Linked DNA regions of Homo sapiens: regions 2 and 3 are each linked to region 1. Evidence: fine-mapped expression QTL. A gene starts in region 1. Each other region holds a variant in brackets. All regions are shown on one strand. Distances are between the middles of the regions.

Region 1 (10,616 bases):
ACCTCAGGCGATCTGCCCACCTCAACCTCCCAAAGTGCTGGGATTACAGGCGTGAGCCACTGTGCCCTGGCCAGATGTTTTTTTAAAAGAGAGAGAAAGAGAGAGAGAGAGAGAAAGAGAGAGAGAGAGGGAGAGAAGGAAACTTTGCACTCTGTTATCTTCAACCTCTTACTCTACCTTCCTCCCTAGCCGAAGTCCCAGTCCTAAAGCCTAAGAGACCCTCATTGGAACTTGACTTCTGCATAATCCGCCTGGGTGCCCTTGGGCATCCGGGCCTCAGGCCTGGGTCTGACGCCTGGGAAGTTGAGCGTGGCATAATGGAGCTCCTCTTGGCTCTCCTGGGATTCTGGGGCTTGAGTGGATGATTTGGGTTCTGGGAAACTGGGCAACTGATACTGCTTTTTCTGGTTCTTCTTTGATTCTGGGGAGGGAGCACCTGGTGGAAGAGGGGTCCGAGGACTGTTTGGTGTGGCTTTCTGATTCCGCTTCTGAGCCTGAGGGAAGAACCACCATCCTTCATTCATTCATTCAGCAAATATTTGAGCACTTACCACGCGTCGGGCACTGATTTACAGCACAGAGTGAAACTAAGTCCCTGCCCTTGCCTTGCTGAGCTTGCATTCCATCTTGGAAGGAGGAACAGACAATAATTAGCAAAAGTACAATGACTGGTAAGTGACAAATGCCATCAAGAAATTTGAGCACCTTTAGAAGGCAGCGAAAGGGAGGGTGGGATGACTGTTTAATAGGTCATCCAGGGAATTTCAAGACCGGCCTGGCCAACATAGCGAAACCCTGTCTCTACCACAAATACAAAAATTAGCCGGGCGTGGTGACACATGCCTGTGGTCCCAGCTACTCAGGAGGCTGAGGCAGGAAAATCACTTGAACCTGAGAGGTGGAGGTTGTAGTGCGCTGAGACTGCGCCACTGCACTCCAGCCCGGACAACAGAGACAAAATCTGTTTCAAAAAAATAATTGATAGCCGGGTACGGTGGTTCACACCTGTAATCCCAGCACTTTGGGAGGCTGAGGCGGGTGGATCACCTGAGGTCAGGAGTTTGAGACCAGCCTGATCAACATGGTGAAACCCCGTCTCTACTAAAAATACAAAAATTAGGGGGGCATGGTGGTGGATGCCTGTAATCCCAGCTACTCAGGAGGCTGAGGCAGATGAATCGCTTGAACCAGGAGGTGGAGGTTGCAGTGAGCCGAGACCTTGCCACTGCACTCCAGCCTAGACAACAACAGTGAAATCCCATCTCAAAAAATAAAATAAAATAAAAATAAATAAAATAAAGAATAGCATGCATGCACGGAGAGAAAGACTGGAGGGGGTGAGAACGGAAGCAGAGAAGGCATGCAGAAGGGGCCAGTGGTGCCCGGGGTGGGGTGGGGGGTGTTGATGCATGGCTTGTAGTAGTGAGGGAAGAGTAGGGAGAACTGGCTTGGTTGTATTTTGAAGGGAATTTGCTGATGGATTGGTTGTGGGGTGACAGAGAAGAGAGGAGTGAAATATGATTCTAAAGCTTTAGACTTGGCTGGGAAAATGTGGTGTTATTTGCTAAGATGGGGATAGAGATGGAGCATAAATGGTGGAATTAGTCTTTTTTTTTTTTTAGATGAAGTTTCGCTCTTGTTGCCCAGGCTGGAGTGCAGTGGCATGATCTCACTGCAACCTCCACCTCCTGGGTTCAAGTAATTCTCCTGCCTCAGCCTCCCGAGTAGCTGTGATTACAGGCACCCATCACCATGCCCAGGTAATTTTTTGTATGTTTAGTAGAGATGGGGTTTCACCATGTTGAACACGCTGCTCTTAAAATTTTGACCTCAGGCGATCCACCCACCTCGGCCTCCCAAAGTGCTGGGATTACAGGTGTGAGCCAGCAGGCGTGGCCTTTTTTTTTTTGAGACAGGGTCTCACTCTGTCACCCAGGCTGGAGTGCATGGTGTCATCATGGCTCACTGTAGCCTCCAACTCCCAGGCTCAAGAGATCCTCCCACCTCAGCCTCCCAAGTAGCTGGGACAATGGGCATGCACCACCACACCCGGCTAATTTTTTATTTTTTTTGTAGAGAAGAGGTCTCACTATGTTGCTCAGGCTGGGGAATTATCTTAAGTTGGTTTTGGACAGGCTAAGTTTGAAGTGCTGATTAGACACCCACATGGAGATGTTGCATAGACAGTCTTCAGGGAAGGAGCCACGAGATACAATTTTGCAGTCATCAGCATAAGATGTTATCTCTTAATAATTTCCAGAATTTACAGAGTATTACCCAGGGGCCAGGTGATATTCTGAATATTTTATTATGCAAGTACAATATATTTAACACCCAGCATCATCCTAGGAGGTGGCCGCTAGTATTGTCTCCATGTTACAGCTAAAGAAATTGAGGCACAGAGAAGTTAAGACACTTGTTTCATGACACAGTGATGACAGCAGGATTTGAACCCATGCAGGCTGATTTCAGACCCCCTGTGCTGAATCCCTAGGATGCCCAGCCTCCCGATGATACACATAATTGTTAAGCAGTTAAGTGTAGTCATGTCAATGGTGGCAGTAATAATGGAACAATGGCTACAGATTGAGAAAGTGCATGTATTCTAATCCTCAAACCAACTCTCAAAGGAGACAGAGGAAGAAATGAAGGCTCAGAGGGGGTGAGTGACGTGGCTGAGGTCTCATAGCTAGTAAGTGCCAGGCAGGATTTGAATTCAGAACTATCGGTGCTTTTCCCACCTTGATGTCGCTAAGACAAGGGGTGCAAAAGTCAGAAAGTGGGATGTCAGCTTTAGAGAAGAGAAAAAGTGGAAGCATGGCCCAGACACTCACCAGGGGGCCAGCCGTCGGGACCACATTGATGTAATCCAGGATCGTGCTGTGCCGGGAGAACCTGGGCCTCGGGGTTTCTGTCTGAGTCCGTCTCTTCGGTAGAATCTTCATGCTGAGGAAATGAACCCACCTGTTTGTGCCCTGCTGCACCTCCCTGTGACAGACTGCCACGTTTACTACCTGAGACCGTCACTATGACAGTTACTACTGTTACCACTTGAGACCGTCATTATGAGACTGAAAGAAGGAGGACAAACGTAGAAATGAAAACTTAAGACAAAAGAAATTATTTTAAAGGAAGGGGTCAGGGGAAGAAGAAGAGGGTTCCCTGCTACTAGTGAGCCAGGGCAGCTGTCTGAGCCTCTACAGCCCTTTGTATTTATTGGGTAGAAAGAGCAGAGAGCAGGAGGTAACAATTGGTCAGCTGTTTAATTGATCACAGGTTCATATTATTACTAACAAGCTTCAGCTGTGCCTAATTACAAGAAACACTTCGCTTGGGGCGTGACTGCCCTCAGCATTCCCTCTGGGAAGCAGACGCAGTTTGTCAGTTGGACAACATTCTGCATTTATGAGAACAGTTTGCTGTTTACTCATGTAACCTCCAGAGGTATACTGCGTTGATCACGACCTTCACTCTTTCGGCCTGCAACACCTCCCCTCTTCCTGGGTCCAGGCCCCAGACCCCGCCACGCCTCCTCTTAACCTACATGATCAGGGCCAGGCAGAGGAAAAGAAGAGCCGTGATGCCGATTCCCAGAAACGCTCCGTTGGAGAATGCCGTTGAGATGAGTCCCTTCTTATCTGCACACGGAGAGGGCAAGGTGAGCATTTCCCATCCACGCAGGGCTCACGAAGCCCGCTCATCACTCGGCATTAAGGCTTCCGGTTCCCATGGCGGACATTGTATCTGCAACCCCTCTGTTTACTTTTAGGAAACCCTGCCACACCCCGGCCCAGGTGTTAGGACTTCCCATTGTGTTTTCCTGTCTACATACAGATGCCACGGGTCTGCTGTGTCCCTCCAAGCTCCTGCTCCAACCACAGGACCCTACTCTTTGCCCCAGTCAGCTTCTCCTCCAAGAACCTTGGCATCCAGGCGGCCCCCTAACCTGGCAGCTGCAGGATGGATCCACTCTGGGCCCCATGGACGTTCCAGGCCTCACAGCGGAGCCTGAGGCCGGAGCTGAGCCCTCCATGGAGGCTCAGGGAGCTGTTGGCCCAGGGCCCGGCTGAGCTGGGGGTGACCTCGAAGGAGTCCTGGCTGCTGTTCCCCTCCAGCAGCTCCTCCCCAAGCCACCAGCGCAGAGAGGGGGCCGGGCTGGCCTGGGAGGAGCAGCTGCAGTGCAGACCCTCAGCCTCCCAGGAGCAGGAGGGGCCCAGCAGCTTCGGGGAGTCTGAGGGGAGGGAGGACAGGACTCAGCAGGGTCCCCTTCCTGGGACCCAGGTGTCCCCTTTCCCCCACTCACAGTGCACGGAGAGGCTGAGAGAGACGTGCTGGGAGCCCAGTGGGTGCCGAGCGTGGCAGGTGAACTCTCCTTCGTGCTCCACTTGAACCCGAGGCAGCTCCAGGACCCCGGGGTCTGAGGGCTGGGAGGGGCTCAGAACCTGTCCCCTCTGGGTCCAGCTCAGCCTGGCTGGGGGGCTGCTGTGTGTGACACAGACCAGGCACAGGCTTTGGCCCTCCAGTACTGGGAGAGACGTGCCGTTCCCAAGGTTTTCCAGGACTAGGGAAGGAAGAGGCAGAATCGATGAGCAGCTCAGGGCTCAGGGACCCTCCTGCGTGGGGACCCTCCAGACTCCTGGGCCCCCAATTCGGCACTGAGAGGCCTTGGCTCCTCTGTCCCCTTTCCTACCTGTCCTGTTTGCTTGGGAAACCATCACTCTCAGGTTCTCTGGAGGATCTGAAATGGAGACAGGGGACCGGCTCTAGACGGACCAGGGGCTTCCCTCTGGGTAAAGGGAACCATCCTGGACACTGAGGTGGGGGAAGTGGGTGGGATAGAAGGGCAGGGCAGAATCACCCACTGAGTCCCAGACACAAACTGCATGAGGGTCTACACAGGTAAGAAGGTCGGTCTCCGAGGCCTGGGGCTCCAGGCCCCCTCAGCTCTGGGACCCTGAGCCCAGCCCCTGTATCCCTCTGCCCTCCCAATGGACTCCAGGCCCCTGCTGGGCACACTCACACTGCACAGAGAGGTCCAGGGCTCGCTGCTGGGAGCCAAGCCTGTTCTCCGCTCGGCAGGTGTAGCGCCCTGAATCCCCAGCCTTCACCCCGGGCAGCTCCAGCCCCAGGGGTCTAGGGCCCCAGGGATGGGACGAGGAGAGGACTCTGTTCTGCAGGACCCAGCTCAGTGTGGCAGGGGGCTGGCTGTCAGCAGCACAGAGGAGCCGCAGGAACTGGCCTTTTTGGGCTTCCAGGTATGGGACATTTCCCTGGGGCTGGGGCTCCAGGGCTGGAGTGGGAGGAAAAAAAAAAAAGAGAGAAAGGGAGGGAGAAAGAGAGAAGGGGTACAGGGAGGAGCACATCCCCTCATCCCCTGAAGCCTTTTCATCTAAAGACAACTGGCCCAGCCCCAGCCCGACGGCCCTCAGTACCTGGCGTGTTGTCACGTGAAATGCTGATAACAAGGTCTCTGGGGGCATCTGCAACAAGATTGTGAGCTGGCTTCAGGGAGGGACAATTTATTCCTCACACCTGGAAAAAACTCCCTCAGGGAAAAGAAAGTGGGACTATCCCGGGAAGACAAGTGACAACCAGCGCCAGGGCTCACGTGTGTGGACCAGACGCCATTCCCATCCCCCTCCCAGGGCTGCGGCGGCATCCTGGGACCCCACAGCTTCCTCTCCCTGGATGCTCCTGAGCTGGGAGCCGCTCACTGTCCCACTGGGCTCCTCCACCTCCCCACCCACCGGGGCTGTCTGCACACCCCACCCTCCCAGGCCACACTCACAGGCCACACGGAGTCGGACGGTCCTCTGTGCGCTCACACCCTTTCTGGAGAAGTCCACATGGCAGGTGAGGTCGGTGTTGTGGTCCTGGGGTCTGGGCGTGAAGCTGAGCACTGAGAAGTGGGAGGTCGTTGGTTTGGTTCCTTGGGAGGAGAGGGCAGCCCCCGTCCAGGAGAAAGAAGGGGGTGGACATTCCTCAAAGGCCCAGTTAAACACACAGATGACCGTCACCGGCTGCCCGGGCTCCAGGGTCTCGGGGATGTAGACATCAGGCTTCTGAGTCAGGGCTGGGACAGAGACCGTGGTGGGAGATTCTTGTGCTGCAGGGGTCCCTGAGAGCCCTCTCTGCTCAGCCCATAGGCTGTCCCCAGGGTCCCTCCCCAGTGTGAGAGGCAGGGGTTCCCACCCCATTCCATACCTGTTACTTTTAGAAAGAACCCATCGTTCATGAAATTATATCTCACATAGCTTCCTCTCTCCACCCGAAAGAAGTACTGTGACTCATCCTGCATCTGCGCGTCTCTGATCACCAAGGAGCAGTTCCCCTTGGCGGGATCCCCAGTGAGCTGGAATCGGCCCCGGGTGCTCATTTCCACCTCTCGACTCTGGTGGTTTGTGGCCACAGGAGCACCCTTGGTTGTCTCAGTCACTGCTTTGAACCAGTAGCCATAAGCTGGGGTAGACCCTGTCCAGTCCTGTCGGGGGTAGGAGAAAGAGCAGGGCACAGAGATGCACAGGCCCTCCGGCACCATCACTGACTCCTGCACTCGTATCCAGAATCTCCCATCCATAGCCTGGGACCCTGTGGGGAGACAGAGGCTCAACCTGCAACCCCAGCCCTAGCTCCGCCCCAGGTCCTTTCCGGCCCTTGGCCCACTCACCGCCCAGCAGCGAGGACAGCAGCAGTGGCAGTAGCATCTCCGCATAGGAGGCGCAGGGCCTGCCTGAGACAGGCCTGTTCTCTGGTCGTGCTGTGAGTGGCTCAGGGCTCTTGGCAGAAGGGGAAGCCGAAGGCGGAAGCTGAGCCCTGGGGCCTGATGCATGAAATGAGCTTCAGACGCTGAGCTCACAGAACTCCTTTGCCTTCCCCCACACTCTCCGGCCCACCTTGCCCAGTTGTCCTCTGGGTCTCCTGGGGGCCCAGCCTGGCCTTGGGCTTGTTGAGCTGGTCCTTCCAGAGCTCCCTGTGTAGGAGGAGAGGGCAGGCTTGTGTCTATCCTGGGGGCCTGGCTGGGGGTGGGGTAGTGGGGTGGGGGCTCTCCCTCTGGGCCCTGGGTCATCGGAAAAGCAGAAGTGAGAAGTCCACAGTGAGCTACCCTTATCTGGGCCACTGGTGGTGGAGGTGGTGGGTACAGGGGAAGGGACCGTTACTGGAGGGGGCTGGTCTTGTCAGGTAAAATGCAGGATGCCTGGTTAAAGCTTTCACAGACAATATAAAGTATTTTATTTTATGTTTTTTGGTATAAGTATGTCCGAAATGCTGCATGGGATATACTTATACCAGAAAGCAAAATAAATTTATCTGAAATTCAAATTAATTAATTAATTAATTATATTTTGAGACAGAGTCTCACTCTGTCACCCAGGCTGCAGTGCAGTGGTGCAATCTCTGCTTACTGCAACCTCCACCTCCCAGGCTGAAGTGATTCTCCTGCCTCAGCCTCCTGAGTCTGGGCTTACAGGCACGCGCCACCACGCCAAGCTAATTTTTGTATTTTTAGTAGAGGTGGGGTTTCACCATGTTGGCAGGGCTGGTTTTGAACTCCTGACCTCAAATGATCCACCTGCCTTGACCTCCCAAAGTGCTGAGATTACAGGTGTGAACCACCGCACCTGGCCTAAAATTCAAATTTAACTGAGCATGTTGAATTTCTTTTTTTCTAAATCTGGCCACCGTAGGGTGGTGTCAGCTCCACCTCTTCATGCTTCCTGGTGAGCTCACTGACCCTTGGTCCCCAGAAGCAGTCTCCTGCCCCAACCAGGCCCTAGTCCACTTCCCAGTCTCCCTTCCTCCTCTGTCATTCAATTGGGACACCCATTGGGATTAGAACACATATGTCCAAAGCTAATGCTGATGGGAAGAGTTTGAGGAAGGCGGGAGTGAGGGGCAGAGTGGGGGGAACAGACTAGGGAAGGGGTAATTTGCAATGAATGGAGTAAACTCTACAAGATGTTTTCCCCTCACTGAGCTCTTCCTGAAATGACTCTGTTTGGGTCACACCGAAACACAGAACTCATCCTTCAACCTCCACATACCTTGGGTATCAAGCACTGAGCTTTAGGGGGACTTGGAGGTGAATCCTCCATGGTGAGTCAGCTCCAGGGCCCCAGGTTAGCAAATGAAGATTCTTAGAAACAAAGTACAGAAGGTCCCCTAAATGAACTGGATGCTGGACAGACATTCAGGATGGGACCTGGGGAAGGAGTGGTCAGCTCTTCCTGGTGGAGGGAAGTCAGGAGAGGCCTCCTGGAGGAGATGACCCAGCCTCTGCCCTGTCCTGGTTCTTTCATCCATGGCATTTTTGTTTTTTGTTTTTGAGACAAGGTCTTGCTCTGTTGCCCAGGCTGGAGTGCAGTGGTGTGATCATGGCTCAGTGCAGCCTCCATCTTCTGGGCTCAAGCGATCCTCCCACCTCAGCCTCCCAACTAGCCGGGACTATAGGCACACACCACCACGCCCAGATAATTTTTGATTTTTTTTTTTGATAATTTTTGTAGAGACAGAGGTGTTTGTTTGTTTGTTTGTTTTTGTTTTTTGAGATGGAGTTTCCCTCTTGTTGCCCAGGCTGGAGTGCAGTAGCATGATCTTGGCTCACTGCAACCTCCACCTCCGGGGTTCAAGCGATTCTCCTGCCTCAGCCTCCCAAGTAGCTGGGACTACAGACATGCGCCACCATGCCTGGCTGATTTTGTATTTTTAGAAAAGATGGGGTTTCTTCATGTTGTTCAGGCTGGTCTCGAACTCCTGACCTCAGGTGATCCACCCGCCTCAGCCTCCCAAAGAGCTGGGATTACAGGCGTGAGCCACTGCACCTTGCTGAGACAGAGTTTCACCATGTTGGCCAGGCTGGTCTTGAACTCCTGGGCTCCAGTGATCCTCCCGCCTCGGCCTCCCAAAGTGCTGGGATTACAGGTGTGCTCCACGGCCTCATCCACTGTATCAGTCGCTTGAGCTGCTGTAACAGCGTGCCCCAGACAGAGGGGCTGAAACAACAACATTGACTTCCTCACAGTTCTGGGACTAGACGTCCAAAACCAAGATGTGGTTCCTTCAGAGGCTTCTGCCTGGCTTGCAGATGCCACTTCTCCCTGTGTTCTCACACAGCTGTTCCCCTGTGGGTGTCTGTTTCCTCAACTCCTGCTCTTATAAGAACTTACAAGAACTCAAGTCATATTGGACTAGGCCCACTCTAGTCCAAATGAGTGACCTCATTTCAGCCGGCCCTCAGTATGCACAGGTCCCACATCCCGGAATTCAACCACCTGCCCATCACGGCATTTAAATACAAAACCAACAAAAGCCAACATAACCATAAAAAACAGCATGAATTAAAAATACAGCATAACAACTATTTACACCGCATTACACTGTATTAGGTGTGATAAGTAACCTGGAGATGGGAGGATGTGCAGAGGTCCCACGCAAACACTACTGTATAAGGCAGCTGAGCATTGTAGATTTTGGTATCCAAGGGGTGGGGATCCTGGAACCAATCCCCAACTAATACAGTGGAACAACTGTATCTCTTTAAAGACTGTCTGCATGTACAGCCACATTCTTAGGTACTGGAGGTTGGGACTTCAACACAGAAATTTGGTGGGGGGAGGGGGGACACAATTCAGACCCTAATATCCACCTCTCCCCATTTTTTTTTTTTTTTTTTTGAGAGAGAGTGTTGCTCTGTTGCCCAGGCTGGAGTGCAGTGGCATGATCTTGGCTCGCTGCAGCCGCTCCCTGTCTGATTCAAGCGATTCTCTTGGTGCAGGCTCACGAGTAGCTGGGACTACAGGCGCCTGCCACCACGCCTAGCTAATTTTCATATTTTTAATTTTATTTTTATCTTTTTTTTTTTTTGAGACTGGGTTGTGCTCTGTCACCCAGGCTAGAGTGCACTGGCATGATCTCAGCTCACTGCAACCTCTGCCTCTCGGGTTCAAACGATTCTGCGTCAGCCTCCCGAGTAGCTGGGATTACAGGCGCCTGCCACCATGCCCAGCTTATTTTTGTATTTTCAGTAGAGACAGGGTTTCACCGTGTTGGCCAGGCTGGTTTCGAACTCGTGATCTCAGGTGACCCTCTCACCTCGGCCTCTCAAAGTGCTGGGATTACAGGCGTGAGCCACCAAGCCCAGCTTCACCTTCCCTTTGATCCCTGCTTCCCTGTGACCTAATCTGGGCCTTCTCTGAGGACACCAGCCTCCTTCCCGCAGGGGAGCTCTTGTGGTGGGACACATCACACCTTCCTCTCCACAGAGCTCAGAAAAGGGCCTCTCCCAGGGAGGAGTGAGGGGAGGAAAGGTGCCTGGGTCCTGGTGGAGGTGGGTCCCTAAGGAGCTGATGATCTCTAGGGCCCCCAGCCTGGGCCCAGCCCCACCTCTGCCTTTGAACATTTCACACCCATGGGATCAGCCGACAGGAGCCAGGAGAGCGGCACCGTCTTCCTCCTCCCGCGGGTTTCTCCACATCGCTGCCCCCTCCCATTCCCCCCTCTTCACTTTTCTGAGTTCCTGTGGTTTCTGTGGCCTCCTCACCACGTCCCCTTCTCCAGCGAGGCCAGAGCCCCCGACGCCCCGACTTGCTCCCAGCCCTTCCTACCCAAGCCGCCCTCCC
Region 2 (10,616 bases), 24 kb before region 1:
ATATTTAGAAAATGCTGTTTCGTGACACTAGCCCCAATTGCTGTGCATGACACCTCTGAAGCGTCAGGAAATGCCACCTCTCCCAACTTAACCTTCAAACCAGCACCCCGTGAAACTGCAGCTAGAAAACAACCCTGTAGTCCCAGTTCTGCCCCCTCCATGCTGAGTGACCTTGGGTTGCTCCCTTTCCCTCTTTGAGCCGCAGAGTTCTCCATCTGGAATACAGGTGTCCTTGGGCCCCGAGGTCCGCCCTGCTCTTTCCCCAGGCGCGGCCTGGACCCTGGCCGGGGGGCTCACCGATGCTGTCTGTCTGCAGGTAGCACTTGTTGCCCAGGCAGTACCGCCACAGGCCCTGGTGGGCGAAGGACCCTGACAGCCGGTACTGCATCCAGTGGTCTGTTGCCATGGCCACCACCAGGAGGATGGTCCCCACCCAGGCACAGAACAGGCCACCACCCATGAAGCTGTACATGGTGATCTGTGGGGAAGGGGAGAGATGGGATTGGGAGCTGAATTCCCGGGACTTGAAGGGAGGAACTGGGGGGAGAGAGGGCTCAGGAGTGGGATGCCAAGTGCTTGGGAGAAGGAGATGGAGACCTAGACGCCTGGGTCCTGGGCGAGGAGGGGACTGGAGCCCGGACTCCTGGGTCTGAGGGAGGAGGATGGTAGGGATCCTGGAAAGACAACAGGGAGAGCGGGGCTGGGTTCTGGGAAGAAAAGGCCGGGGGCCTGGACTTCCAGGTTCTGAGCAAGGAATAGGCTGGAGGCCTAGCTTCCTGAGTCCTAGGTGAGAAGGGGCCCAGGAGCCTGGATTCCTGGGTGGTGGGTAAGGAAGGGGCTAGGGGCTAGGGGGTAGGACACCAGGTCCTGGGAGAAGAAGGAGCTGGGACCCTAGACTCCTGGGACTTGGGGAAGAGGGGGCTACAGGTCTCACGCCTGGTGCCTACCTGAGTGGCAGAGCCTGCCCGAGCCCTCCTTCTGCCACGGCCCCTCTGTGCAGACTGAGCTGAGCCTGGTCACTGGCCTCTTTGCCCCCTTAGGTTCCCCAAATCCCTTAAGCCTCCCTACACAATGGTCCCACTACCCAGCAGCTTCCAGCAGGCAGAAATGCAGCGGTGGCAGAGGCCTCAAATGGAATTCGCTGAAGCAGGCATCCAGGGGGCTCCCCCCACCCACTCACTGACCTCTGTGACCCTCCCCGGAACCCAATACCTTGTCGCCAGCCTTGCTCAAAGCAACCCTGGCTTTGTCCGAGCTGTGTAAGCACGCACACACGCACACACACACACACACACGGGCGCGCGCACACACGCAAGATTCAGGGAGAGTCATGCGTTTATTGTTCAACCAGGGCTTTCTACCTGAAGAGCAGGCAGTGGGGTGGGGAGTCACAGGTGTCTGGGTATGTGGGGCCAATGCGGTTCTTTGTGGGGATGGACACAGGGCTGTGGCTGAGGTTGAGGATGGAGCTCTTTGGGGCTGTAGATTCAGAGGACATTAAAGATGGGCTGAGGTACACAGGCAATGAGGAGAAAGGGGTTGGTAAAGAGGGTGGGTTAGGGTTGAGGCGCAGAAGTGGAGCTGGGACTGGTGACAGGGATGGGAATGAATGGGTTTGGGAACAGGGTATTGAGAGTGGGGAAGAGAGAGGCAGGTAGGAGTGGCTTTGGGATTAGGGAGAGGATAGGGAATGGGGTTGGAGGAGCCCTGGGGGTTGAGAATGAGGTAAGGATTGTGGTTGTGGTTGGGGATGGCATTGGGAATGGGGTTGAGGCCATCAAGGAGACAGGTTTGGGTACGAGGTTTAGGATTTTCTTCTCACTTGGGATTCAGGTGACTTAGGTCAGGTTCACCAAGTGCCTCACAGGAGCTACTCCTGGGATTGTGGTTTTGGGGAGAGGGGAGGATGGAAGATGTTTCTTGGGGTTCTTCTGACAGGGCTGAGATCACTCTGGGCCCCAGGAAAACCCTCCTGGGTGACTGCAATCTCAGGTGCCTGACCCTCCAAGGTCCTAGTACTCTGTCTCCCAGTCCTCAGCAGCCAGTGGTGTTTCCAGGGGTGGCTCTGGACCTCGAGCTTCTTTCTTCCCATCCTGGGCAGGCAGTGTTGGTGGTGATGGCAGTGTCATTGGTGGGGTCCTGGGGCCAGCCCCAGGGCCCCCCGCCCGGCCCCTCTCTGGCTGCTCAGCTCTCCCAAGGCCCCGTCGATGCAGGCCTCGGCCCCAGCCTGGCCTGTGCCTGACTTCCCAGCCTCCGCGTCCCCTGGGAGGCCTCCTAACTGCCCCCGGCTGGGAGTGGCCTGCCTGGGAGCAGCAGGGGCAAGAGGGCAAGGCCTGTTGGAAGGTGTAGGCCCCCAGCAGGGCGCTGTGCAGGAGGCAGGAGAGGGTGTCCAGGCGTATGGGCACGGTGACAGAGGCCACGCTCTCCGGGAGCCCCAGGTGGGTGGGGTCTGTGGAGTTCAGGAGCAAGGGTGGAGGGGCTGGGAGAGGCGCAGGGGGCCATGGCTCGGTCCCAGATGACGGCAGGGACAGGTTGTTCCTAGAACAACAAAAAGACAGGTCAGTGGGGCTCAGCGTCTCCGTACTTTCTTGTTTCTCGCTGCCAGGCTGTCTCTGCACCTCTGCAGAAGGCAGCCATCTCTCCATCCTCAGTGCCCACCTGTGACTTCCTCCCCCGCTTCTCTCTTTTTGTTTCTAACCCGGGTCTCTCTAAAGAAACAGACAGCTCTGCCATGAACTTCGGCACCAGACAGAACTCAGTTCCAATTCCTGGTGGCCTCGCTTTTGGTGGTGTATCTTTGGACAAATCATTTTCCTATTCCGAACCTTAATTTGTTTATAGTCACAGATGGCTTTGGATGGTATCAAAGGTGCGTATGACAGCGCTGGGTCTGGTAAGTGCTAAAACAGTGGACAGCTACGATTTCTCCAGCCTTCTGGGGATCCCTGGAGTCTTCACATTTCTTGGTTTATTCTTGGAAATTTCTGTTCGATGAGTATCTGTTTCTAGCTCTTTTTTTTTTTTGAGATGGGGTTTCACTCTTGTTGCCCAGACTGGAGTGCAATGGCGCTAACTTGGCTCAACGCAACCTCTGCCTCTCGGGTTCAAGCGATTCTCCTGCCTCAGCCTGTCGAGTACCTGGGATTACAGGCACGCACCACCACGCCCGTCTAATTTTGTATTTTTAGGAGAGACAGATTTCTCCATGTTGGTCAGGCTGGTCTCGAACTCCCGACCTCATGTGATCCACCCGCCTCGGCCTCCCAAAGTGCTGGGATTACAGGCATAAGCCACTGCACCCGGCCTCCGCCTGTTTCTAAGTATCTCGCTCAACTCTCACCAAGATCTTCTAAGATTCTGTACCTATGTGATGATACCTGAGCCTTTTTTGTTTTTCCTGATTCTCTATGCAGGTCTGTTCAGCGCGCCCTTTCTCTCTCGTTTTCTCTGTCCCCTCCTCTCTCTGGGTCTCTGTCCCCCTCTCAGGAGGTCTTTGTTTGTCTCACCCTTCAGGCCCAGCCCCGTCCTTTGGTTGTTCCATCTCCACTGGGGCCCTCTTACGTATCTTCTAGCAACTTCGCCTCCGAGATCCTTCGGGGGCCCGGGAAGGTTGGGGAGGGGCCGAGGCCGAGAGAGGCGGGGCTTGGCCGGGTCAGAAATGGGGCGTGGCTCGCGGAGTTATCCGGGATCCCAAAAGAAAGAGCTCAGGCGGGGACCTGGATCTAGTTCCCCAAGATCACTTACTTAAGGCCTCCAGCACCCTGTAGCCCCTCCTCCCTCAGACCCAGGAGTCCAGATCCCCAGCTCCTCCTCGCTCAGACCCAGGAGTCCAGATCCCCAGCTCTTCCTCCCTCAGACCCAGGAGTCCAGATCCCCAGCTCCTCCCTAAGACCCAAGAGTCTAGATCCCCAGCCCCCTCCTCCCTCAGACCCGGAAGTCTAGGGCCCCAGCCCCTCCTCCCTCAGACCCGGGAGTCCAGATCCCCAGCTCTTCCTCCCTCAGACCCGGGAGTTCAGATCCCCAGTTCCTCCTCCCTAAGACCTAGGAGTCCAGATCCCCAGCCCCCTCCTCCCTCAGACCCGGAAGTCTAGGGTCCTAGCCACTCCTCCTTCAGACCCGGGAGTCCAGGCTCCAGCCCCTCCTTCTTCAGACCCCGTACTCTGGTTCCCCAGCCCCCTTCCTCTCTCAGATTCAGTAGTCCCGGGACCCCTGCCCCCTTCTCTCTCTCTCTCTGTCTTTCTCTCTCTTTATTCCTGCCATATCCTCAAGACAGATTCTTTAGGACTCAAGGGACGTTTTAGGTAGGGAAATGTGGACACTCCCTAGGGCAGAGGGCGTGGTAGATGGTCTGGAGGTCTTAGCCATTCTAGGCGCTGGGTTCTACTAGGTGCCGTGTCTCTAACTTGCTTTGTTACTTTAGGTGCTTCTACTCTCTATGCCCTAGTTTCTCCATCTGAGAAATGGGGCTAATATTACTGTCCAGGTTCTTGTGATATTACTTGTGTATTAGTAGACACAGAATCTGGACCACAATTAGGCTGAACACATGAGATTTACTTATTGTTATTGCTGGTGGTTGTGACAGTGTTTTGCTGAGAAGCAATCGTCATTATTACATGCATTCATTTAAGAAATATTCAATGCCTGCTATGATTTGGGCTCCAGGCTGCACACGGGACAGAATAGACATGGCCCCTACTCTCAGGAAACTTGCATGCTTGTAAGGGAGACAGACGAGACATACATAGCATATATTCTGTAAGAATATGTACCTGAAGATGTCAAATCAGGGCAAGAGGATATAGAGTCACCGAGGTAGGGAGATAGAGCAGATAACGTGGTTAGGGGCCTGGCCCGGTGGCTCACGCCTGTAATCCCAGCATTTTGGGAGGCCGAGGTGGACGGATCACTTGAGGTCAAGAGTTTGAGACCAGCCTGGCCAAGATGGTGAAACCCCATCTGTACTAAAAATACAAAAATTAGCTGGGCGTGGTGGCAGGCACCTGTAATCCCAGCTATTCGAGAGGCTGAGGCAGGAGAATCGCTTGAACCTGGGAGGCAGAGGTTGCAGTGAGCTGAGATCGTGCCGCTGCACTCCAGCCTGGGCAACAGAGTGAGACCCTGTCTCAAAAATAAATAAAATAAATAAATAAATAAATAAAAATACAAAAATTAGCCAGGCATGGTGGGGCATGCCTGTAGTCCCAGCTACTTGGGAGGCTGAGGCAGGAGAATCACTTGAGCCCAGGAGGCGGAGGCTGCAGTGAGCTGAGATGGCACCATTGCACTCTAGTCTGGGCTACAGAGTGAAACTTCATCTCAAAAAAAAAAAAAAAAAAAAAGAATAAAAAATTAAGTAGATAAGATGGTTAGAAAAGGCTGTTATGGGAAGGTACTGGAAGACTGGAAGTTGAATATTCCTGGGGAGGGAACAGCTTCTGAAAGTAAAACAAATGTAGTGATTCAGGGACTGGAAAATAATCAGCTAAGAGGAGTGGCATAGGTATTTATATTTTTAAATAAATGCTTTATGTTGCAATACTTTTTGC[G/A]TGTGTTTTTTTTGAGACAGGGTCCCCCTCTGTCACCCAGGCTGGAGTGCAGTGGTGTGATCATGGCTCACTGCAGCCTCAACCTCCTGGGCCCAAACCATCCTCCTACCTCAGCCTCCCAAGTAGCTGGGACCACAGGCACACACTACCACACGGGGTGCCTTATTTTGTAGAGACAGGGTCTCAGAATGTTGTCCAGGCTGGTCTCAAACTCCTGGGTTCAAGAGATCCTCCTGTTTTGGCCTCCCAAAGTACCAAGAGATTACAGTCATGAGCCACCATGCTTGGCCTGGAATACTTTTATACTTAGAGAAAAGTTACAAAGATAATACAGAGAGTTCTCATTTACTCCAGACAGGAGTTCCCCTAATGTTGCCATCTTACATTGTCATGTAATGTACATGGTACATTAGTCACAACTAAGAAACTGACAGGACTATTAGGTAAACTGCAGGCTTTATTTGGATTTTACCAGTTTTTACACTAATGTCCTTTGTTTCTGGTCCTGGATCCAATCTGGACTACCACATTGGATTTAGTCATCCTCTCTCGTTAGTCTTCTCTAATCTGCAGCACTCTCTAAGTCTTTCCTTGTTTTTCACAACCTTGAGAGTTGGGGGAGTTCTAAATTATTTTGTAAAATGAAGGTCTTTTTTTTTTTTTTGAGACAGGGTCTCCCTCTGTCACCTAGGCTGGAGTGCAGTGGTGCTATCTCAGTGCACTGCAACCTCCACCTCCCGGGTTCAAGCGATTCTCCTGCCTCAGCCCCCTGAGTAGCTGGGATTACAGGCGCCTGCCACCACGCCCCGCTAATTTTTGTATTTTTAGTAAAGATGGGGCTTTACTATGTTGGCAAGACTGGAGATCTATTTTAATGAATAATATGAACTAATTTAATCCACATTTTAAAAAATTATGTATTTATTTTAATAGAGAAGAGGTCTCTCTATGTTGGCCAGTTGGTGTTAAACTCCTGGCCTCAAGCAATCTTCCCACCTCGGCCTTCCAAAGTGCTAGGATTACAGGGTATTTTAAAATTTTTATTTATTTATTTATTTATTTATTTATTTATTTATTTATTTAAGACAGTCTTGTTCTGTCGCCCAGGCTGGAGTGCAATGGCACGATCTCCGCCCACTGCAACCTCCGCCTCCTGGGTTCGAGCGATTCTCCTGGCTCAGCCTCCCAAGTAGCTGGGATTACAGGCATGTGCCACCATGTCCATGTCCAGCTAATTTTTGTATTTTTAGTAGAGATGGGGTTTCCCCATGTTGGCCAGGCTGGTCTCGAACTCCTGGCCCCACGTAATCCTCCTACCTTGAGTGCTGGGATTACTGGGATAGGCCCCCGTGCCTGGCCCACAACATTGCATTTTAAGGAGGAGAAGTCCCAGGCAACAGGATCGCCCTATGCTGGACGATGTTAGTGGCACTGAGTGGCCGGAATAAGATTTTTGCCAAGAGATCTGGCTTGCTTTTCTTTCCTGGAGACTGATGAGAACCCAGATCTTCAGATTTCAAGTCTGGGTCTATCCATTCGGTTACTTTAAATCCCAGAGGCAGATGGCGCTCACTGCTCAAGTCTAGCGTCATGGGATTGTTCTAGCTTGTTCTTTTATTGCTTCTCCTATTACTAAGATCAGGATCTGACGCCATTTGGAAACCAGGGTCTGACCGCTTACCACGTACCTCGCCCTTTAAGGCTTTTTCTGTCCCGTCCCCCGTGCCCCTGCGGCGCTAGGAGACTGGAGGCGGGACCTTGTGTCGCTAAGGAAATGCCCTTTACTCAGCTTCCAAAATTGACAGGCTAGTTCTGAAAACTGGCCAACCAACTTCTGCTTAAGGGGAAGCGAGACTTCCGATTTGTAGGGGAACGCAGCGGCGATTGGTTAGAGTCCCGCCCACTTGTTAAGCGTCGCGAGCCACTATTCTCGGCTCTGATTGGCCAGAGAACTCGCGCCGCTTTTGAATCCCCACCCTGCGGACCCCGCGCGCCTCGCCTTCTCCCTCTGGTTGGCGAGCGCCTTTCTGCGCCTTCAGGCATTTTTGCTGAGGCTTTTGTCTGCGCATGTGCGGGTAGGTTCCGGTAGCATCCGGGAGACCCGGCCCAGGCCTGGAGATGCTGAGCGGAGCTTGGAGGGAGAGAGGGGACTGGGTTGTTGAGGGGAGAATCCCTCTCGGCATCTCCTTGGCCCACTGGGGAGCCCCATTGCCCCATCCACCGCTTAGAACCAGACCCTTCCTTTCACTCTCCACTCCCTATCCCTACCGGCTTTAGACCTTCAAAGTTCCAAGATTCGACCTTCGGGGTCTCCCCATTTCGTAGGGGCTTACAGATTTCCTAAAATCCCCCTCCTCCCCGAACCCCCTTCCGTCCCTGGAGATTCTGGGGTCCCTGCTCTTTCCCATTCATTCCACCCCATCTACTTGGGACCCTTCCAAGGGCAAGGGGGGCCTCTCAGTGCCTCTCCTACCCTCATGTCCTTTCTCCTCTTTTAGGTCCAGGAGGTCATCTTTGCCTCCCTTCCTTGAAATCTCCCCAGATTTAGAGGCCCTCACCCAGCTTCTCCCCTCTCAGCCCTGTCGAGGTGTCAAGGTTCGGGGATCACCTTTGTTGTTGTTATTGTCGAGGCGTCAAGGTTCGGGTGTCACCTTTGTTGTTGTGTGTTTTTTTTTTTTTGAAACTGAGTCTCGCTCTGTCGCCCAGGCTGGAGTGCAGTGATGCGATCTCGGCTCACTGCAACCTCCGCCTCCCGAGTTCAAGCGAGCCTCCTGCCTCAGCCTCCCGAGTAGCTGGGATTACAGGTGCCTGCCACCAGGACTGGCTAATTATTGTATTTTCAGTAGAGACGGGGTTTCACCACGTTGGCCAGGCTGGTCTCAAACTCCTGACCTCAAGTGATCCACCCGCCTTGGCCTCCCAAATTGCTGGGATTACAGGCGTGAACCACAGCGCCCGGCCTAAGCCCTAGCTGTTCATTGCCACAATGAGAGGAAGTACAGGAAGGTGTTGAGATCATGGGCGTGGAGTCCAACTGACATGCTTGACTGATGTCACATACTGCTCTGCCCCTGAAAAGCTGAGTCACCTTGGGTAATTTGCTTAGCCTCTCTGAGCTTCAGTTTCACTCGGGAGCTGGCCAAGAACACTTGTCTCAGAGTTGCTATGACATTCGAACATGGCAGTGTACGTAAAGGGCTCGGCATGGAGCTTGTTCTCATTAAGCCCCATGGCACGTGGGCATCTATGCTTTTTTTTTTTTTTTTTTTGTAGAAAAAAGTTTATTTGCTGGTTATTGTTTGATCCTTGAAATACAATTCCTCACTGGTGATACTAGTATAAAATGGTGGTTATGAATCCATGCTAGCCCAACGAAAACTAATTTAACAAATTGGTAAAAAAAAAAAAAGAAGTCGTTTTTGAATCTCTATTAAGATTTGAACTAATACATAAGCAAATCTGTGCTAAAACTGGAACTGCTGGGCCAGGCGCGGTGGCTCACGCCTGTAATCCCAGCACTTTGGAAGGCCAAGGTGGGTGGATCACGAGGTCAGGAGTTCGAGACCAGCCTCACCAACATGGTGAAACCCCGTCTCTACTAAAAATCAGCTACTGGGGAGGCTGAGGCAGGATAATCACTTGAACCCAAGAGGCGGAGGTTGCAGTGAGCTGAGATCGCGCCATTGCACTCCAGCCAGGGGGACAGAGCAAGACTCCATCTCAAAACAAAACAAAACAAAAAACTGGAACTGCCTTCTCACACTACATATAATTTGCCTTCCAGCTTCAACCATCTGATGTTGAAATCTAAAGCACTCTCATGAGTTAAATGTCCCTGACAAACCATGTAGATGGACAAACCAGATTGGTGGTCTTTAACTGCTGGTGATAGAAAAAGGCTGCAGTTTAGTACTTAAACCTGCAGTTAGTGGTCAACTTTCCATCTAGGTAGAGTAACTAAGGAGAGCTGTGAAATATCAAAAGAAAACTAGAGGCCAGGACAAAGAGGCAATGTCAGTCAAGCCACTGCAAGCTGGTATGCACCCTTGTATTTCAGCCAAAGGCAGGCAATCCAAAATTACAGATTGCTTTCCTTAACTTGACCAAACAGTGCATTTTACCTCTGAAAGTCTTGTCAAGGGTTGCATTTCATTGTACCTAGTAAAACACAAAGTCCACTCTCATAAAAATATTATATTTTCCAGAAGAAATATTATATGTAATACACTGAAAATCACTGATTGCTTTTGCTTCTTTTTTTCCGTGAATGTGTAGGTGTTTGAGTCTCTTGTGTTTCTTATTTTACATAGGATATGGGCTGTTTGAAAACTATTTCATTAGCTTCATCATCGTCATTCATTTCAGCCATTTCAGATTTTCGTCTCTCCAAAAATGTTGGTGTACAAACTGGTGTGAGGCCCTGGATATCCACAGTCTTCTCAGGAGTGTCAAGAGTGCCTAAAACCTTTTTCTTCTTCTTATGTAAAAGATGGCCTTTTGTAGACGTCTGACAATTAGTTTTTGAAATACTTTCTGTTTTCTGGAAAATCAAAGAAGGAAGAAGGAAAATCATAATCAATTCCTTTTTTTTTTTTTTTTTTTTTGAGATTGAGTCTTGATCTATCGCCTAGGCTGGAGTGCAGTGGCCCAATCTCGGCTTACTGCAACCTCTACCTCCCAGGTTCAAACAGTTATCCTGCCTCAGTCTTCCAAGTAGCTGGGATTACAGGTGCCTGCCACCATGGCTGGCTAATTTATGTATTTTTAGTAGAGATGGGGTTTCACCATGTTGGCCAGGCTGGTCTCGAACTCCTGACTGTTGGGGTGATCAGACCCAACACTAGACTGTGGGGGCTATGAAGTCCGGCGGAGTCAAAGGAATGAGAAAAGACAAGAGTGCATAAGATGGGTCCAGGGGACCAATGCTAGTATGGAGGCTGCGAAGGCCGCAAGCTCTGGAAGCCCGCACTGTTTATTGGTGATCAAACAAAGAAGCAGGTAGTGAGGATGTGGGGGTTGAAAGAAAGTGGTGCATCAAGCGCATGATTTACAGCTGTGACAGTTTAG
Region 3 (6,494 bases), 39 kb before region 1:
CATGCTGAACTGTGAATCAAATAAACCTCTTTCCTTTATAAATTACCCAGTCTCAGGCATTTGTTGTTGTTGTTGTTGTTGTTTGAGACAGAGTCTCACTCTTGTCACTCAGGCTGGAGGGCAGTGGCAAAATCTCGGCTCACTGCAATCTCCACCTCCCAGGTTCAAGCAGTTCTCCTGCTTCAGCCTCCCAAGTAGCTGGGATTACAGGTGCCCGCCACCACACCCAGCTAATTTTTGTATTTTTAGTAGATTTCAGGTTTAGTAGATTTTCGGGTTTTCACCATGTTGGACAGGCTGGTCTTTAACTCCTGACCTCAGGTGATCTGCCCACCTTGGCCTCCCAAAGTGTTGGGATTACAGGTGTGAGCCACCACGCCCGGCCAGGCAGTTATTTATAGCAGTGTGAGAATAGACTAATACATAGGGAGTAGTCTGGAAGAGGACCTCTGTCTTGGAGATGAACTGGTCCAGCAGTCCCAGGACAGCTGGCAAATGTGGAGAATGGGAAATGACCTGGAAGACTGGTTCCTCTCCTTTATTGGAGAGACTCAGATCGGCAGCCCCCATCCTTCACTCAGATCTGCACCACTCTGAGAACACATTTATGAGCACAGGCTCCCAGAGGTGGCAGAGGCCATGAGCAGGCCAGGTCTCCGGAAAACCTGCCATGGTGTGCAGTGAGTAGCAGGTCAGAGCACACAGCCTATCTATCTGTGACCCTGACCCCCTCCCAAACCCAAAGCCATCCTTAACCCCAAACCCAACTCCATCCCCAAACTCAGTATCAAGCCCAGTTCCAACCACAAATTCAACCCATCCCTATCCCCAAAGTTAACCCTATTCCCATTCCTGAACACAACTCCATACCCAATCCCATCCCTATTCGTAATCTCCACCCTAGCTCCAACCCCCATCCTCAAATAGAACTCCATTCTCAGTCCCAACTACACACTCAACCCCATCCCCCGATTCGCCCCCATCCCCAAACCTAACGTCATTCTAATTCCCAAACTCAACATCATCCTTATTCCCAGTTCCAACCCTTATACCCTTCCCACCCTCAAATCTAACTCCATTCTCATTCTGAAACCCCACCCTATCTCCAAACCAAACCCCTCTCCATTATTAACCCCAGCCCCTACTCCAAACCCAACCCCATCCTCTTCCTGAAACTTGACCCTATTCTCATTCCCATCCCAACCCTTTTTTTTTTTTTGAGATGGAGTCTCACTCTGTCACCCAGGCTGGAGTACAGTGGCATGATCTTGGCTCACTGCAACCTCCGCCTCCTGGGTTTAAGTGATTCCTGTGCCTCAGCCTCCTGAGTAGCTGGGGTTATGGTTGTACGCCACCACACCAGGCTAATTTTTTTTTTTTTTTTGTATTTTTAGTAGAAATGGGGTTTTGCCATGTTGGCCAGGCTGGTCTTGAACTCCTGACCTCAGGTGATCCACCTGCCTCAGCCTCCCACAGTGCTGAGATTACAGGAGTGAGCCACTGCGCCCAGCCACTGTCTTTTCATTCTTCTCTGCAACCTCTATAATTCATACCTAACTCCGACCATTTTCATTCTCCTTTCACCTCCAGGTCCAAGCCTGTAACCTCATTTCTCATCTCCCCAAGTGGGTCCCACTACCACCACCATCACACCCATGCATGCATGCATACACAGAGGTGACCTGTACCTGGCTCCAGTGAGTCTCTGCACATGTAGGTATCACAGGCTGATCACAGGCCCAGGCCCTCTGACAGACACCACAAGCCAGTAAGAGCGGGTGAGTGAAGGTCATCTTTTTTTTTTTTTTTTTTTTTTTTTTTTGAGACGCAGTTTCACTTTTGTTGCTCAGGCTGGAGTGCAATGGCATGATCGGGGCTCACAGCAACCTCTGCCTCCCAGGTTCAAGAGATCCTCCTGCCTCAGCCTCCTAAGTAACTAGGATTACAGGCATGCGCCACCATGCCCGGCTGACTTTCTATTTTTAGTAGAGACGGGGTTTCTCCACGTTGGTCAGGCTGGTCTCGAACTCCTGACCTCAGGTGATCCACCTGCTTCAGCCTCCCAAAGTGCTGGAATTACAGGCGTGAGTGACC[G/A]CACCCAGCCAGCCAAGACCATCTCTTAAGAGCACAAAGGCAAGGCAGCTGGGGCCTTGAAGACAGAATTGCTCGCAGGATCTCCAGCAGCTTTCTCAACCAGATGTGGTCTGTGGTTGCCAGAGGAAAACCCCAGGCCTCCTTCTGAAGCTTTTCCTGAGAGCTCTGTGAAAGGAAAATCTTGGGGCCCCAAAATTACTGAGCTAAAGGGGAAAGTCAGGCTGGGAACAGCTCAGGGCAAACCTGCCTCTCATTCTATTCAAAGTCATCCCTCTGCTCACTGAGATCGATGCATATCTGATTGCCTCCTTTGGAAAGGCTTATCAGAAACTCAAAAGAGGCCATGCCTGTAATCCCAGCACTTTAGGAGGCCTAAGCAGGTGGATCACCTGAGGTTATGAGTTCAAAACCAGCCTGGCCAACATGGTGAAACCCCATCTCTACTAAAAATACAAAAATTAGCCGGGCATGGTGGTGCACGCCTGTAGTCTCAGACTCAGGAGACTGAGGTAGGAGAATCACTTGAACCCAGGAGGTGGAGGTTGCAGTAAGCCGAGATTGTGCCACTGCACTCTAGCCTGGGCAACAGAGTTAGACTCCATCTAGGAAAAAAGAAACTCAAAGAATGCAACAATTTGTCTCTCACCTACCTGTAACGTGGAATCCCCCTCCCTGCTTTGAGTTGTCCCCACCTTCCTGGATGCACCAATGTACTTCTTACATCTATTGATTGATATGTCATGTCTCCCTAAAATGTATAGAACCAAGCTGTGCCCCGACCACCTTGGGCACATGTCGTCAGGACATCCTGAGGCTGTGTCACGGGCGCATGTCCTCAACTTTGGCAAAATAAACTTTCTATTGTTCTTTTTTTTGAGATGGAATCTCGCTCTGTTGCCCAGGCTGGAGTGCAGTGGCACGATCTCGGCTCACTGCAAGCTCCGCCTCCCGGGTTCACGCCATTCTCCTGCCTCAGCCTCCTGAGTAGCTGTGACTACATGGCAAAATAAACTTTCTAAATTAACTGAGACCTGTCTCAGATTTTCGGGGTTCACAGCTCACGTCGCCTGCTTGGCCACTTGGTTCTCTTAGGTCTCTGTCAGTCTTGTCTAAGCACTGTCAGTTTTTTTGAATCACCCAGGTCTCTTCCAACTTTCTCCAGCCCCTTCCAACCTCTCCCGGGCTTGAAAGCTCCTCAGTAGCCCCCATCTGCCACGGAAGACCCCAAAAAATTAGCTGGGAGTGGTGGCGTGCACCTGTAATTCCAGCTACTCGGGAGGCTGAGGCAGGAGAATCGCTTGAACCCGGGAGTCAGAAGTTGCAGTGAGCCAAGATCGCACCACCGTACTCCAGCCTGGGTGACAGAGTGAGACTCCATCTCAAAAAAAATAAAATAAAATAAAATTTAAAAAGACTAATCCTCAATTAACCTACGTTCTATTAAAGAAATGAATGCTAATGGTAAACAGTTATTATGGAAGGCATCATCATTTCTATTGAGGTGCACTCTAGTCATAATATTTAATGGCTATTATAATGATAAAAAGATATTAAATCTCAGTATCATTAGAGTACATTTCAATAAATAATACTTTATGTAAGTCAATAAACAGCACTTACTTTATGTAAGTCAGTTGGCCTGAATAAAGATTTATTGTTCAACAAATGTTCTTTTGAGTGATTACCATGTGCCAGGTGCTGTCTTTGAGGATTTACAGGAAACCAAAAGCAGACACAGGCCAGCTGGGGTGGCTCACGCATGTGATCCCAGCACTTCGGGAGGCCAAGGTGGGAGGATCACTTGAGACCAGTAGACAGAGACCAGTCTAGGCAACATAAGGAGACCCCATCTCTACAAAAAATTAAAAAATTACCCAGGCATAGTGGGTGGTGCATGCCTGTAGTCTTAGCTGCTCAGGAGGCTGAGGTGGGAGGCTCAGTTGAGCCTGGGAGGTGGAGGCTGCAGTGAGCTGTGATCACGCCACTGCATTGTAGCCTGGGCAAGAGTGAGACCCTGTCTCAAAAAAAAAAAAAAAAAAAAAAAGCCAACATTGAATCCCAAAGTTGTTGGCTTGAGTAGCTGGATAAAAATGGGGTTGTTTGGCCGGGCGTGGTGGCTCACACCTGTAATCCCAGCACTTTGGGAGGCCGAGGCGGGCGGATCACGAGGTCAGGAGTTTGAGACTAGCCTGGCCAACATGGTGAAACCCCGTCTCCACTAAAAATACAAAAATTAGCTGGGCGTGGTGGCAGACGCCTGTAATCCCAGCTACTTGGGAGGCTGAGGCAGGAGAATCACTTGAACCCAGGAGGGGAGGCGGAGGTTGCAGTGAGCCGAGATTGCACCACTGCACTCCAGCCTGGGCAACAGGGCGAGACTCCATCTCAAAAAAACAAATAAGTAAAATAAAAAATGGGGTTGCCATTTCCTAAGATGGGGAAGACCATGGGAGGAACACATAGGCTGTGTGTGAGATCAGGAACTTATTTTTGGATATGTGAGATTGGAGATGCCTCTTCTTTTCAAGTGGGAATGTTGAGTAAGTAAGTTGAGCAGGTAAGTTGGAGTCCTGAGTCTGGAGTCATAATTATATCATTATTATTGCTAGAGTAAGCCCCTATAAATATGATTACTAGAATAAGTCTCGGCAAATATTTCTATTTAAATAGGCCTCAATAAATTATTAGAGAAATCTTCAATTGTCATTATTATTAGAGAAAACCTCTATAAATACAGTATTTTTATTTGAGGAGGCCCCAGTAAATATTATTTTAGGGAATAAGCCTCTATAAACATAACATTTATTAGCATAGCTGTAGTAAATAGTCTGATTAGAATCAGCCTTATGAAATAGTCTTATGATAGACATCAGTAAATCTCATGGCAGTTAGCAACCATTTATTTTCTTTTTCTTTTTCTTTTTTATTTTGAGACATAGTCTTACTCTCGCTCAGGCTGGAGTGCAGTGGTGCTATCACAGCTCACTGCAACCTCCGTCTCCTCGGACTCCAGCGACCCTCCCACCTCAGCCTCCTGAGTAGCTGGGACAGGCACACACCAACATGCCCAGCTAATTTTTTTTTTTTTTTTTTTTTTTGTAGAGATGGGGTTTTCTCATGTTGCCTGGGGGACTCCTGGGCTTGAGCAATCCACCTGCCTTGGTTTTCCAAAGTGCTGGGATTACCGGTGTGAGACACCACACCCAGCCAGCATCAATTAATAGAATGAATTACTAATGAGTGAATGAAGAGAAGATCACGGTCATGAATGGTGTGTGAAGAGCAGGTGCCGGAGGTAAGGCTCAGGGTTCTGGTGTTTCCTTTGAAGGGACGCATCAGGGGAGGAGAGAGGAGGCTGGGGAGAGCCAACTGGAGGCGGGGTGGGCAGGGAGTTTTTTCAGAGATCTTTTCATTTGTCCGATTATCCTACACATCCATATCCTGGAAGTTGAACTGTGGTGAGCTCCTGGACACGGACTGTTGATTCATCTCTGTTCCCCTCCGTGCAGAAACTGAGAAGGTCAGGCCTCCATAATACAGCACCCCTGGGCCGGGTGCAGTGGCTCACGCCTGTAATCCCAGCACTTTGGGAGGCAGAGGTGGGTGGATCATCTGAAGTCAGGAATTCGAGACCAGCCTGGCCAACATGGTGAAACCCCATCTCTACTAAAAATACAAAAAGTAACCAGGAGTGGTAGTGGGCCCCTGTAATCCCAGCTACTTGGGAAGCTGAGGCAGGAAAATCACTTGAACCCAGGAGGCAGAGGTTGCGGTGAGCTGAGATCGCACCATTGCACCCCAGCCTGGGCAACAAAGGCGAAACTCCGTCTCAAAACAATGAAGACAACAACCACAAGAAAAACACACAAAAAAGCACCCCTGCCCACACCCACCACCCTTACAGCTGTTTCTCCCCATCCTAGTCCCTCAAGTATTAACACTTTAGTAGTTTCACATCAGTTTTATTAGGCCCCAGAAAGTTGCTCTAATGGATAGTCCATTTTTCTAACAACCTGCCAGGCAGACGGGGACTTGAGTCTTCTCAGCTCCCTCCCATGGGCCCTATTCTTCCTCCTTCCAGCCTAGGACCAGGAGTCAGCCTCCCCCCACAAACCCACAGTCCAGAACTGAGCCCCCTCATTCCCCTAGGAACCAGGATTTCAGGCCTCTAGACCCTCCTCCTCCTCTTCAGTGGCCTCACTTTAACTTCCAGATGAAGTTGGGGGACACATTTGGGCTCAGCGGGGTGTAGACAGGCGCCGGCATTCATGCACCCGGTAGGCGCACATGTAGAAAATCCCTGCATGAGAAGAAGTTCAAATTCACCCCCTCAAACCTCCCCCAGCTCCATTTCCACCCCAAGAGAGCCCAACACCCTACTCTCTTTCTCCCTGGGTATC

Evidence for each region. PIP is the estimated chance that this variant, and not a neighbour inherited with it, causes the effect.
Region 2: its variant is fine-mapped to the expression of SIGLEC10-AS1 in whole blood (TOPMed, PIP above 0.99).
Region 3: its variant is fine-mapped to the expression of SIGLEC10-AS1 in whole blood (TOPMed, PIP above 0.99).

What each region holds. Positions count from the first base shown.
Region 1 is chr19:51,410,878-51,421,493 of GRCh38, forward strand. It overlaps SIGLEC10-AS1 (SIGLEC10 antisense RNA 1), which reads left to right and starts at 4,847. Exons shown (of 3, transcript NR_164125.1): 1 at 4,847-5,255; 2 at 5,552-5,853; 3 at 6,255-7,320. It overlaps SIGLEC10 (sialic acid binding Ig like lectin 10), which reads right to left and starts at 6,765. Exons shown (of 11, transcript NM_033130.5): 1 at 6,668-6,765; 2 at 6,205-6,588; 3 at 5,789-6,073; 4 at 5,433-5,480; 5 at 5,021-5,290; 6 at 4,691-4,738; 7 at 4,304-4,561; 8 at 3,947-4,231; 9 at 3,545-3,638; 10 at 2,835-2,946; 11 at 1-494. The coding sequence starts at 6,704. The coding sequence ends at 222. RefSeq lists enhancers at 6,695-6,864, 6,925-6,994.
Region 2 is chr19:51,386,972-51,397,587 of GRCh38, forward strand. It overlaps C19orf84 (chromosome 19 open reading frame 84), which reads right to left and starts at 3,620. Exons shown (of 2, transcript NM_001193623.2): 1 at 3,507-3,620; 2 at 1,318-2,538. The coding sequence starts at 3,541. The coding sequence ends at 2,013. LIM2 (lens intrinsic membrane protein 2) reads right to left here and starts at 1,003. Exons shown (of 5, transcript NM_001161748.2): 1 at 948-1,003; 2 at 298-478. The coding sequence starts at 472. It overlaps LIM2-AS1 (LIM2 and SIGLEC10 antisense RNA 1), which reads left to right and starts at 137. Exons shown (of 2, transcript XR_002958397.2): 1 at 137-226; 2 at 317-400. It also overlaps the pseudogene NIFKP6. RefSeq lists enhancers at 6,891-7,487, 8,543-8,752 and silencers at 7,393-7,452, 7,463-7,602. The variant G/A (reference allele first, on the strand shown) is at 5,550.
Region 3 is chr19:51,373,869-51,380,362 of GRCh38, forward strand. LIM2 (lens intrinsic membrane protein 2) reads right to left here. Exons shown (of 5, transcript NM_001161748.2): 5 at 6,041-6,394. The coding sequence ends at 6,333. It overlaps LOC124904752 (a long non-coding RNA gene), which reads left to right. Exons shown (of 2, transcript XR_007067312.1): 2 at 1-45. Among named protein-coding and RNA genes, the nearest start is that of NKG7, 4.5 kb to the left of the region's middle. RefSeq lists a silencer at 2,659-2,916. The variant G/A (reference allele first, on the strand shown) is at 2,095.